Regions from separate parts of the Homo sapiens genome. Here region 2 is linked to region 1. A link means that fine-mapping ties the variant in region 1 to the expression of a gene that starts in the linked region. Tissue or cell type: whole blood. Region 1 holds a variant in brackets; the other region holds the start of a gene. All regions are shown on one strand. Distances are between the middles of the regions.

Region 1 (5,373 bases):
TGAGCACTTGAGTTCAAATCTCAGCCTTGCCTCGTACCAGCATCTAACCCAAGGCGCTTTAGATAATCCCACCCCACTCCAATCTGGCCCACGGACCAGCAGCATTAGCATCACCTCGGAACATTTCAGAAACTGAGACACTCAGGCCCTGCCCCAGATCCACTAAAACTGCATTTTCACAAGAGCCCCAGTGTATAATACGCACTTGCACATTAGCCATTCTAAGCCTGCATTTCTTCATCTGTAAAGTGGGGTTGATGATAATAATGTCACCTACCTGGAAGTGCTGGTACCAAACCAAATAAACTGATTCATGGAAGTGCTTACACCATGCCTACCTAGCACACAGTAGGCCTTCAGTAAATGTTAGCTATGACTACTTTATTTAACCTCTCTGAGTCTCAGATTCCTTTGTTGGAAAATGGAATTGCAATACCGCCAATCACTTGGTGCTGTGAAAATCAAAGCCAGATTAAACAAGAAAAGAATTAAAATAGGCCAGATGTGGTGGCTCATGCCTGCAATCCCAGTGTTTTTCAAGGTTAAGGCAGGGGGACTGCTTGAGGCCAGGAGTTTAAGGCTGCTGTGAGCTATGATGGTGCCACTGCACTCCAGTCTATGCGACAGAGCAAGACCCTGTCTCTAAAAATAAAAGTAACAGTAGCAGCATTGCTATATGCCAGGCACGGTTCTGTGAGTGCTACATATATTGATGTAGTAAATTCTCACAACAACCCTATCTGGAAGATTGCAGATAGTGGAATTCTAAAATTATCCTTATTTTGCAGATAAGAAAACTGAGGCACAGGGTGGTAAACTGGCTTGCCTGAGACATCGGTGAACAGCTGCCTTAGCTGTAAAGTTCTACATAAAGGGGAGTTATTGCTGTCAGGTGGCTGACGAGGAAATGCACTTTCTGTGTAACTCTTCGGGAAGACAGCAATTCCATCCAGGAAGGTACACTCCATAACTCCTTTCCGGCCTTGGAGTTGATCGCTGTGGCTTCACTCAAGACAGCCTCACTCCTGAGTTGCCAGGAAGTGAAGGCAGGGAGTGGAACAAGGAGCAGAAGTGAGTGGGGTCGGCTTCTGTCTTCAGAGGATCTAAGCTCATGCTGCCTCTCTTAAAAGAAAAGAAATTCCCACCAGGAACAATGTGAGGAGGCTCTTAAAAGAGGGCGCGTCCAAGCAGCAGCTCCCATGGATGTTAATTAGCAGCCAGTGCCAGCTCACAGCACACAGCCCTGGCATCCCCGCATGGCTACTCTGGCCACCATGACTCAGCCTGGCCATCAGCCACCATTAGCACTTGGAGAGTCTCTCGCAGTGATAGCTGTCTGCAAGCCTGCCTGCAGACAAGGTAAGGCTGACCAAAGCATGGACCAAACAGTGCCCTCATTTGATGTGCTCTTAGATGTATGGCAAATTTGGATAGTAAGAGTAGAGAGTAGAATTCATCAGGTGTCTGGTCTTTAGAGTCAAATAGCCATAGGTTTGTAGCCAGTCCCATCACTTATTAGCTGCAAGAGCTTCCTCTTCTGTAAAATGATGTAATCACACCCACCCCGGTGGAGACATTCTGAGGACCAAATGAAATAAGGTGTGGAAGGTCTGACATGGGGCTCTAGCTTCTAGCAGGGGCTCAGTAAGCATTACTTTCCTTTTCTAGTCTCCATGCTGTGTTCCTGTGCTTGCTGTTTCTTCCTCTTGAAAAGCCATCATCATGCTCCTTACTATCAAACTCCTACCCATCCCTCAAAACCCAATTCAATCCCTCTTCCTCCATGAAAGCTTTCTGGTCCATCCAGCCAGACAGACCCACTGCTTCCTGCTCAGCACTTCCAGAATACATTACACAGGGCCATTTGGCCCTGCCAAGGGAGAAGGATCAGGGAAGGCTTCCTGGAAGAAGAGGCAGTCAAGCAGAGACCCCAAAGAAGGAGCAGGCAAAAAGGAATGAGCAGAGCATTCCAGACAGTGTGAACCATGTGTGCCAAGGTCAAGAAGCCAGAGAGAGCTTGGTGGATGACAGGAATTCAAGTCCTATACCAGGGGCCTTCCCTGACCACTCTAGGTAAAAGAGCAACTCTATTCTTCATTCTCATCCTGCATGGATTTTCTTCACTGCCAGCCAATTACATTATGTGTTTATTTGTTTACTGCTGTGTCTCCAACTGGAATTTTAAGCTCACTAGAGCAGGTACCTTCTCTTCTTCACTGACTTCTGTATCCTCCTCACGGCTCATTATCACTGCTAGTTTAACAACTGCGAGATCCTGAGTTCCAAGACAGAAATTTGGCCATCTAGTTCACTATTAAATCCCCAGCACAGGGTCAAGTACACAGTAGGACCTTAATGAATATTTCTGATCAAATAAATATTGCCCAGAAAAGACGTTCAATTCCTCAGTGAATAAATGCAGGAATGGATGAGTGAATGCAGGTATGCGTGGATATATACACACAACACATGAATTGATTAATTCATGCATGAACACAGAGCTCTCCCATTCATATCATCAAAGCCCAGAGGCTGACTCTCAGCTGCCCCACTTGGTCTTATTAAGCTTCAGAGGTTTCTATCTCATCTTGGCCCTGGCCATTCAAAGCTTCTTTTCTTATCCACAGCAGCCGCGCTTCCATTGTCTTAAGGGGCAGCAGGCCATTTCCCCTATGCCCCTCTACTCTGAGCCCTGGGAGCTCACCAGATTCCCAGCCCTCTTGGAGGAGGTCGGCTGACCCTGGTGCCTGGACCTCTTCTCATTGTAAGACATTTTTACAGGAGCCTTCTATGGGAATTGTCAGCATTCCATTCTCCCAGAGAGTGGGCTGTGAATTTGGCCCGTTTTTTATTAATTGCAAATTAGTGCTGTGCTTGGTGTCTATTTTAGTAGACATGCTTCCAGAGTACGGAATGCAGCCCAAAGCAGCACATTGCTCTCATTCTTTCTGCTGACCGACTGTGTGAATATTTTTAGAAACCACACCCTCTCGCAGTGCCAGATAAATAATTTCCAATGCCAGATGTGTGCTCTGCAAATCAACATCAGGCAGGGAAGGGGAGAGGAATGAGCTACATGGCTCTCCCCACCACTGCAGCGACATGTGACAAGTTTAAACCAGTAGCATTTATATAGGCTTCCTAGGCCAAAGTCCTCCACCCTTGAAACGTGGAAAATGGATCCACATTTAGAGAAGCACCAGAGGG[G/T]GCTCCAAGAGAGGATCTTGCTGCTCATGTCCCGCTGGTTCGTGGCTCGTGTGTCTGTGGTCCCCCAGGTCCAGACACGGATGGCAGGGGCTCTCTTGAGCACAGAGGCCGGCTTGTGGCCATGTATCTGCCTGCCTTTGCCAGCATGGGTCCTTTCTAAATATGTTTCAGCAAAATGCTGAGTCAGGAAGAGTTGAGAATATACCACCAGAAGACAAATCAAGACCAGCTGAATCACATTTTTTTAAAACCTTGGAAGTGGATGGGAGATGATGAAAAGATAATTTGCCTGGAAGTCAAACACATGAGTTCTAATCCTGGCTCATCATTCCTTTATTCCAAAATCAAACCATTTTGAAGTACCTACTGTGTGCCAAGCACTAGTCTACACTCTGGGGAAGCAAAGACACAATAATTTAGTCCAGACTGATTCACTGTGTGATCGTGGGCATTATCCTCTAGACTTTCTGGGTCTAATCATTAAAACAAGGGGTTGGAAAAATGACTCCCAAAGTTCTTTAAAGATGTAGGATTCTCAGACCTAAGTAGGATTCCTTGAACAAAGAGGAAAGGAATTTAAAAGTGTTGATAATGGGAAGATCTGGTTTCTCTTTGGGACGTATGTGTGCATGCACACCCGTGCTTTACCTTGGGAAATGCCAGGATTAGAAATTCTTAAGGAAAGGTATATGCCTAAGCCTTAATTGATAATACTGCTTTGTGTGTGTGCTCTTTCCCTCCATCATGCACAGGCACCCTAGGTTGAAGAACTTGGTGCAGGGGAACTGTCAGGCCCAACATCATTGCCCTTTTGCTTACACAAATGAAGCCATTCTCCTGGGCTCCTGCCTCACTGTTTCCCTGCACAATTGCTTTCAGAATTCTAATCATTCTTTTCCTCCATTAGGGAATTACATGATTTCATAGAAAGCTATGTGTCTTATCACTTCTGGGAATACATCATGGGACCAAGAGGTCACACTGCACCATAGAACCCAACCCCTAGGCAAGAGGCTTACATTCCAGGCCTTGTAAAGATGACATTTAGTTTTGAGAGCTCTGGGGGCAGGTGGCAGGAAGGATCTGGAGAGGAAGTCAATAAGGTTGATGACACAAACCCTTAGAAAAATGTGGTGGCCCTCAAACCAAGACCAATTTTTCAGCCATGGCCTGACCACCACTCCCCAGGACCTAGGTAGGCACCTTCAGAGCAGCTGACTTCCGGTTCAATTCCCTCTCCAGTGGCCAGCCACTTAAGAAGGCTCCCAGTATAGTAACAGTTAAGCATGAATTGCTTTGATTGTAGTATTGTCTAAAATCTTCACGTTTATTATTGACTCTCCAGGACTGGGCACAGGGCATTGCACACAGTAACAGTTCAGAAAATACTCCTTGAAACAAAAATGAACAAATAAACAATAATCTGCAGAGACAGGAACTGGCAACTCTTGACAGATGAGGAAACTAAAGCCTAAATCATCAAGAAACTTACCCCAAATCCTGCCATTACTAAGGGGCAGGGTTGAAATATCTAACTCCAAAGCCACTGCTTTTAACTTTGACTCATTTGGACACGAGTGCTTAGCAGTTTACAAAACTAAACACAGAGTGTCTCATTCACTGCTCTAAGCAGGCCTGTGAGTAGTACTGTTACCCCGTTTTACAGCTGAGGAAACAGGGTTAAGTGGTTTTCCCAGTGTCAAGAAGCTAGTAAGCCATACAGCCCGGAATTTCCTAACTCTACAACCAGTGCTCCTTCTAGAATAATCCAACCACTTTGCCAGAAATAGACCCTGCGATTCCACTTCCTATTCCCATGGAGAACTACTTTGACCAACTATTTCCTGCTTATTCTATAGACTACATGTGACTACGGTCAAACACTCTGCAAGAGCAAGAGGTCACTGGGTCATGGCTTCCAGGGGCCTCTCAAAGGATGATGGTGACTAATGGTTGCTGCCATGATCTGTACAGAGAATCCCAACACCAAAGCAACTCCATCCTTCCAAGCAAGGAAACAAGTCTCATCACACGCTCCTCCACTGATAGCAGCAACAACAAAAAAATCATTCCCATGCTTTGCCCAGGGACCAGGGATAAGCCACTAACGTCACCAGCGGCCAATTGGAGGGCTCCTGCTGGTGCCGGGAGTACTAAGGCCGTTTC
Region 2 (5,373 bases), 59 kb after region 1:
AATAGCACAATGGGAAAATGAACTAGGGCTGAACAATAACACAGCGGGACTTCAGATTTGCGGCTGGTAAAGAAGCCTCTCTCGTTCTCAGGGCGCCCCCTCGTGGCCGCTTGACTAAATCCTGACGGAATGTTCAGTTTCTGCAAATACAGAGAAAGACATCCCCCAAAAGAGAAAGGCGGACTCCTGCCTACTGATGCAAATCCCTTTCACTCTAACCTAGTCTGTGGATCAGACAGCTCAAGAACGCCTGACAGGAAGTCCCACTGACGCTCAGAAAGGCGTCTGCCATAAGACAAGGGTTCGTTCGTTAGAAAGGTCTGAGGTAGTGCCCCAGCATTTAGACTTTGGGGTCCCTTCACAGACCCTAGACACACCCTTACCACTTCAACAACCCCTCATAGCCTCACATTCTCAACCTGCAGCTCGAACTGCGTCTGTTTTTCATTATTCTGCTTCCCACCTTCCCAGTGCGATTCTTCAGCAGCTATTAAGACAACATGAGCAGGGATCTAAGCTTAGTTTTTGCTTATTCAACATCCAGCCTGGGGAATATCACCTCAGAAGAAAAGCATGAATGAAGTGCACGTTTCCCAGCCTCTTCTTCCACAAACCTGAAATTGCCTTCATCAGAGGCCACCCTTACAACCCTCCCCTTTAACAATTTCATCCTACGAAAATGGCACCTGCCCAGAGTGAATTCTCAACTACTTGCTTGCTGTAGAATTTATTACAGAGCCAGCTTTAAAAAGAAATGTACGCCATCTCAAATTTCCAATTAATTGATAACAGATTTTTTTTTAAAATAACGTTATGGGACGAAGTTATATAGACCCAAACATCAAATCTGAGAAATGGGTTGGGAGGGCGTTATCCGGGTATCCAGATATTTGAGAATTTGGGGACTGAACTTTGCTGACTGGCACCCCCATGTTTTTTTCACAGAACTGTTCCTGCCGAAATGCAAAAGAAACATGTCAATACTAAGCTGCTATTTTATTTGACAGCTCATTTTCCTTTTTCCCTGCAGTCATTTGTTGTTTATAAGCAAACCTGAGCCTCCAAAACACCCCCAAAAGTGCACACAAGGAGTCCCATAATCAGTTTCTGACTTTGGCCCTAAATCGATTAGAATACATCTGATCTGCTTCAAATCAAAGAACCATGTTAATTTTCTGCCACACACCACACAAAATCTTTCTGCAACAGTCAGTCACTTTGAACCCAACTCTCTAGCCACAAGCAGTGTGGATTTCAAGGGCCTGTTCTGCAGAAGTGAAAATAACAACAAACCAAGGCTGGGACAAGGCAGACAGACCCCAAGGCACTCAAAGCACTCCTTGGAGCTGTGCAAATGGTGCCAGGACCCTGGCAGGGTGTCAGCTGTCACAAGAGCAGCGGGGCCAGACCCCTTCAGCGGTTTGGTAGCCCTGCAACCAGGAGCTGAAACACAACTGAGCCTGCTGCAACTAAGCACAGCTATCTCTGTAGCTACCCATGCCCTGGACATTTCGGTCCTCCCAAAGCCATGATGCAAACTGTTAGAATCCTCAGGCTTGCAGTAGTCTTTATTTTTGCTCCCTAACCTTGTCTCAAAAACAGGCAAGAGTCGCCCTCCCTTGCAGTCACAGCAGTATCAGGGCGATGCAGAGTCTGAGTGGGAGGATGCAGAGCAAGGAGCTGCGGGCAGATGGGTGGAAGGGGGTAGGGACACCTACAAAACACCGGACTTGAGGGGCTAGCTCCTAGCTGGGAATGTGGTTCTTTGGAGAGTTGTGGAAATAAGACGTTTCGGGGCATGGTCTAAATGAGTGCCTGCGAGGGAGAGAGACCCCGGCCGTCCCAACGCTGCAAAGTGTTTGCAAATCTAAAACATTCCTTTGCTGCTAGGATTAAATTTTTAAAAACAAACCAAAAAATAAAATAAAATATGTGCAGACAGGATGTAACAAGTGTTTCAGGACAGAGACACGCCTGAGTCACGGGGTGCTGGAGAAAGAGTGAGGAGTCTGTCTCGGGGCTTCCCAATGAGCCCCCTCTCTGTCAAGAGAGCCCCAGGGCGCACAGACCCCCGCCTCGCACGCCCTCAGTCCCCGGCCGCGTCCACCCAGCGCCCCCCGCACCCTCCAGGATTGCCCCACTCACCACTCGGCCAGAAAACCTCTCGGTGGCCCGCTTGACTTTGCCGTAGGTGCCTTTGCCCAGGGTCTCCTGCAGCTCGTAGCGGTGCTTCAAGTTGTGCTTGTGGTGATGCCGCTTCACCCCGTGCGGCTTCCTGGGCTCCAGGGCTGCAGTCGCCCCCGCCACCGCCTCTCGGGGAGAGCCCGGCGCCCCCAGCCCCAAGTCGGGGCGGTCCCCCGCCACAGGCGCGGCGGCCCCTTCCATGTCCAAGCGCGGGGCGAGCCGGGCTACAGAGGGCAAGACCGGGCACAGCGCTGGGATGTCGGGGTCCCCACCGAGGGAAGCCGCTGTACGCTCAAGGTCGCCCCCGCAGCATCAGGGAGGCGGCCCGATACCGCTCGGACTGCGGCTCGGTCACTGGCGGCGGCGGGGACTGCACATCTGGCGCCCGCGGCGCGCACGGTCCGCGCACCGCCCCCCGGCCGCGGCGAGCTGTGGAGCGTCGGGCGAGGTGGCGGCGGTGGCAGGGGAGGCGGTGGTGTTTGCAGGAGGGAGGGGAGAGGGTGGCTCGCAGCGCAGGAGGGGGAGTGTTATGTGGGGCGCCGCGCCCCCCAACCCCTCCCCGGGAGGACGCGCAGACGGGGCGGGGGCGGCGCTCGCGCGGCCCCAGGGGAGGGGGAGCGAGGGGCGGTGCAGCCAGGGCTTCCCCCACCTCCCTGCAGCCACCCGGGGCCGGGGCCGCCGTGAGCTGGGAGGGGGATGGGAGCGTGTCGCGACTCGCCCTTTGTGCGGCGCGGCGTAGGCCACGGCGGCGGCGGCGGCGGCGGCCAGGAGTGCTTTGTCCTCGCTGGGCCGGAAGGGACCGGGAAATTCCAAGCCGGGCGCCCCCTCCCCGGGCGCTCTCGGGCTCGCCAGTCGCAGCTACCGCGGGCCCTCCGCCGCCTCGGGCTCCGGGGCCGGTCGCTCGGCCTGGATTCCTGCTGGCGCCGGGGCGGCGGTTGCGGCTGGCCGAGCCCCGGGGCCGGGGAAGAAAGAGCGCCGCGAGCCGGGGGCCGCCGGGACCTGCTCGCGATACGGCCGGGGCCGCCGCGGGCCTGGGCGCCCCTTCATTTTCTTGTAGGTGTCGCCGCAGCCTGGCGGCCGGAGCTGGGGGAGGGGGCAGGGAGGCCTGGTGTTCGGTTACAGGCGGTGACTCACGGACCTTGCCCGCCCGAGGCTGGCACCCCGCGGGGCAGAGCTGCGCCCGCCTGGGGCAACTCCGAGTCCAGGAGAACCCCAAGAGCGGCGCTTTGGCCCCGGCCCCCGCGCCCTCTCCGAAGAAAGGAGAGTCAGGGACGGAGGGAGGCCGGGAGGCTGAACCCCGGGCCCGCCGTCGAACCGCCGGCCCTCCGACACCATCTGGACCCCGGCGGGGACAGCCGCCTGGAAGGGGAGGAAGGCCAGGGACGTGGAAGAGATGGGGCTCTAAAGGCGCCGGGACGGAGCTGGCTCCCCAGAGGCGCCCACCCTGCCAGCGAAGGCCGCCATCGGAGGTGGGCAAACCAGGGACCTGGGGTGGACCAGGACCCCGGGCCTGCTGAGCAACCCGTTTGCTGAGCAGGAGGCGATTTGCAGGCCTCTTGCCTCCTTAGGCCTTGGGAGATTTCCTTTCACTGAAAGGGCCAGATCCTGGCGATGGTGACAGGAACGGTACCCCGCACGGTAAGGGTCAGGCAGGAAGGGCCTCCCACCGCGGCGTGGCTGCCGCCGTTCTAAGAAGAGACCATGAAAAATAAGGAAGAAGGCTAGAGAAAAAGAGGTCTTAGGGAAATTTTTTTTTTTAACAAGTGGTGCAATGTACCAGACTAGGGTGGGAAGAGTGAAGGCTGAAGAAGGTCTGGTGTTCTGCAGATCGCATGGCGGTTCTTTTCCACCAGTGGACCTCACTGGGGCCTCCTCTGCAGCTCTCAGGTGCAGCCCTTCCTCTACATTCCCGCCGCCTTCATTCCTGTCTACCCCTGGTCACCTTACCCCGGACTCCAGCAACAGCCCGCTCTCCCCAACCCTCCCCGGGAGCCTCCTCACTGCTGCCAGAGTAATGGCCTGAAACACTGCCCTCATCCTCCACACGTGTCTCTGCTGTACTCTGACGCGTGATATTCTTACCTGTCCAAACTTTCCTTCTACTGATATTTCACACAAACTTCCCTGCCCCTTCTTCCCTTCCCCAGGAGCAATGACAGAACACAGACACAAAGGCGCATCATGCCTATTCAATTCCTATTCTGTCCACCGCATTTGCAGGGCCTCCCTGCCACCCACCCCCATCCTGAAACTGTTCTGCTTCTATACAGTTTGTGGACGTTGTGCCTATAGATCCCACAGTCAGGATGAGTGGCATGCAGGTTGAGTCCTGGCTTCCCAGAGGATTGGCTGTGTGGCCTTGGTCAAATGACATAACCTCTCAGAGCTTCGGTTTTCTCTTAAGATATGGATTTAGCAGATCTATTGTAGAGATAAACACATTGTGTCTACAGTAGTATTTTAAAATATTTTCTACTTCTTCCCCTCCCCTGCGATGTGGTAGAAATCCACTACCCCATCCTCTTGAAGTTAGATGAGACCATCGGACTTGCTTAGGCCAATGGAATGAGAGCAGAAGTGATTGTGTTGCTTTCACTTGGAACCTTTAGGAGCCAGTGAGCAAATCCCCATGTCTTCTTTTTCCTATCTTGACAATCATGGTGGTACAAAGTTGGAGCCTCCCCAAGCCAGCCTGAGTCTCTGTGTAAAGATGGCAGAAAATCCCAGCCAATCTGCATTGGAAAAGTAGTGTCAGCAAATATTAAACTTTATTTATGTTAAGTCAGTGGGATTTGTTAAAGCAGCATAACCTGGCTTATTCTGGCTGATAGTGTTACTCCCAGATATGTGGGACTTCATCAGTATCTATTGAATCAACAGCATCATCTACCATAGGCTGGTACTGTTTTATGACAGTAAACCCTCCTCTGTAAAGTAGCTGTTTACAATCCCTATTTTCAATTGAAGAAACCGTATCAGAAAGGTTAAGTAATTTCCCAGAGGTTACACAGTTTGTAAATGGCAGGACCAGGATTTAAACCCTACCTGTCCAGTTCCAAAGCTCCCCCTTCTCCTTTCATATATGCCATGCTCCGTCTCCTTAAATGGGAAGGATGAAAAACACCCAGTACAATGCCTAGCACACAGTCATGCCCAGGCACTGGGAGTTCCTCTCCAGACTGAATTCCT

The links.
Region 2: it holds the start of NUAK1, and the variant in region 1 is fine-mapped to the expression of NUAK1 in whole blood (TOPMed, PIP above 0.99).

The regions. Positions count from the first base shown.
Region 1 is chr12:106,077,588-106,082,960 of GRCh38, forward strand. The region is part of intron 4 of NUAK1 (NUAK family kinase 1); the gene reads right to left. Among named protein-coding and RNA genes, the nearest start is that of NUAK1, 59 kb to the right of the region's middle. RefSeq lists an enhancer at 3,304-3,804. The variant G/T (reference allele first, on the strand shown) is at 3,208.
Region 2 is chr12:106,136,269-106,141,641 of GRCh38, forward strand. NUAK1 (NUAK family kinase 1) reads right to left here and starts at 2,686. Exons shown (of 7, transcript NM_014840.3): 1 at 2,146-2,686. The coding sequence starts at 2,385. RefSeq lists enhancers at 1,115-1,616, 4,008-4,627.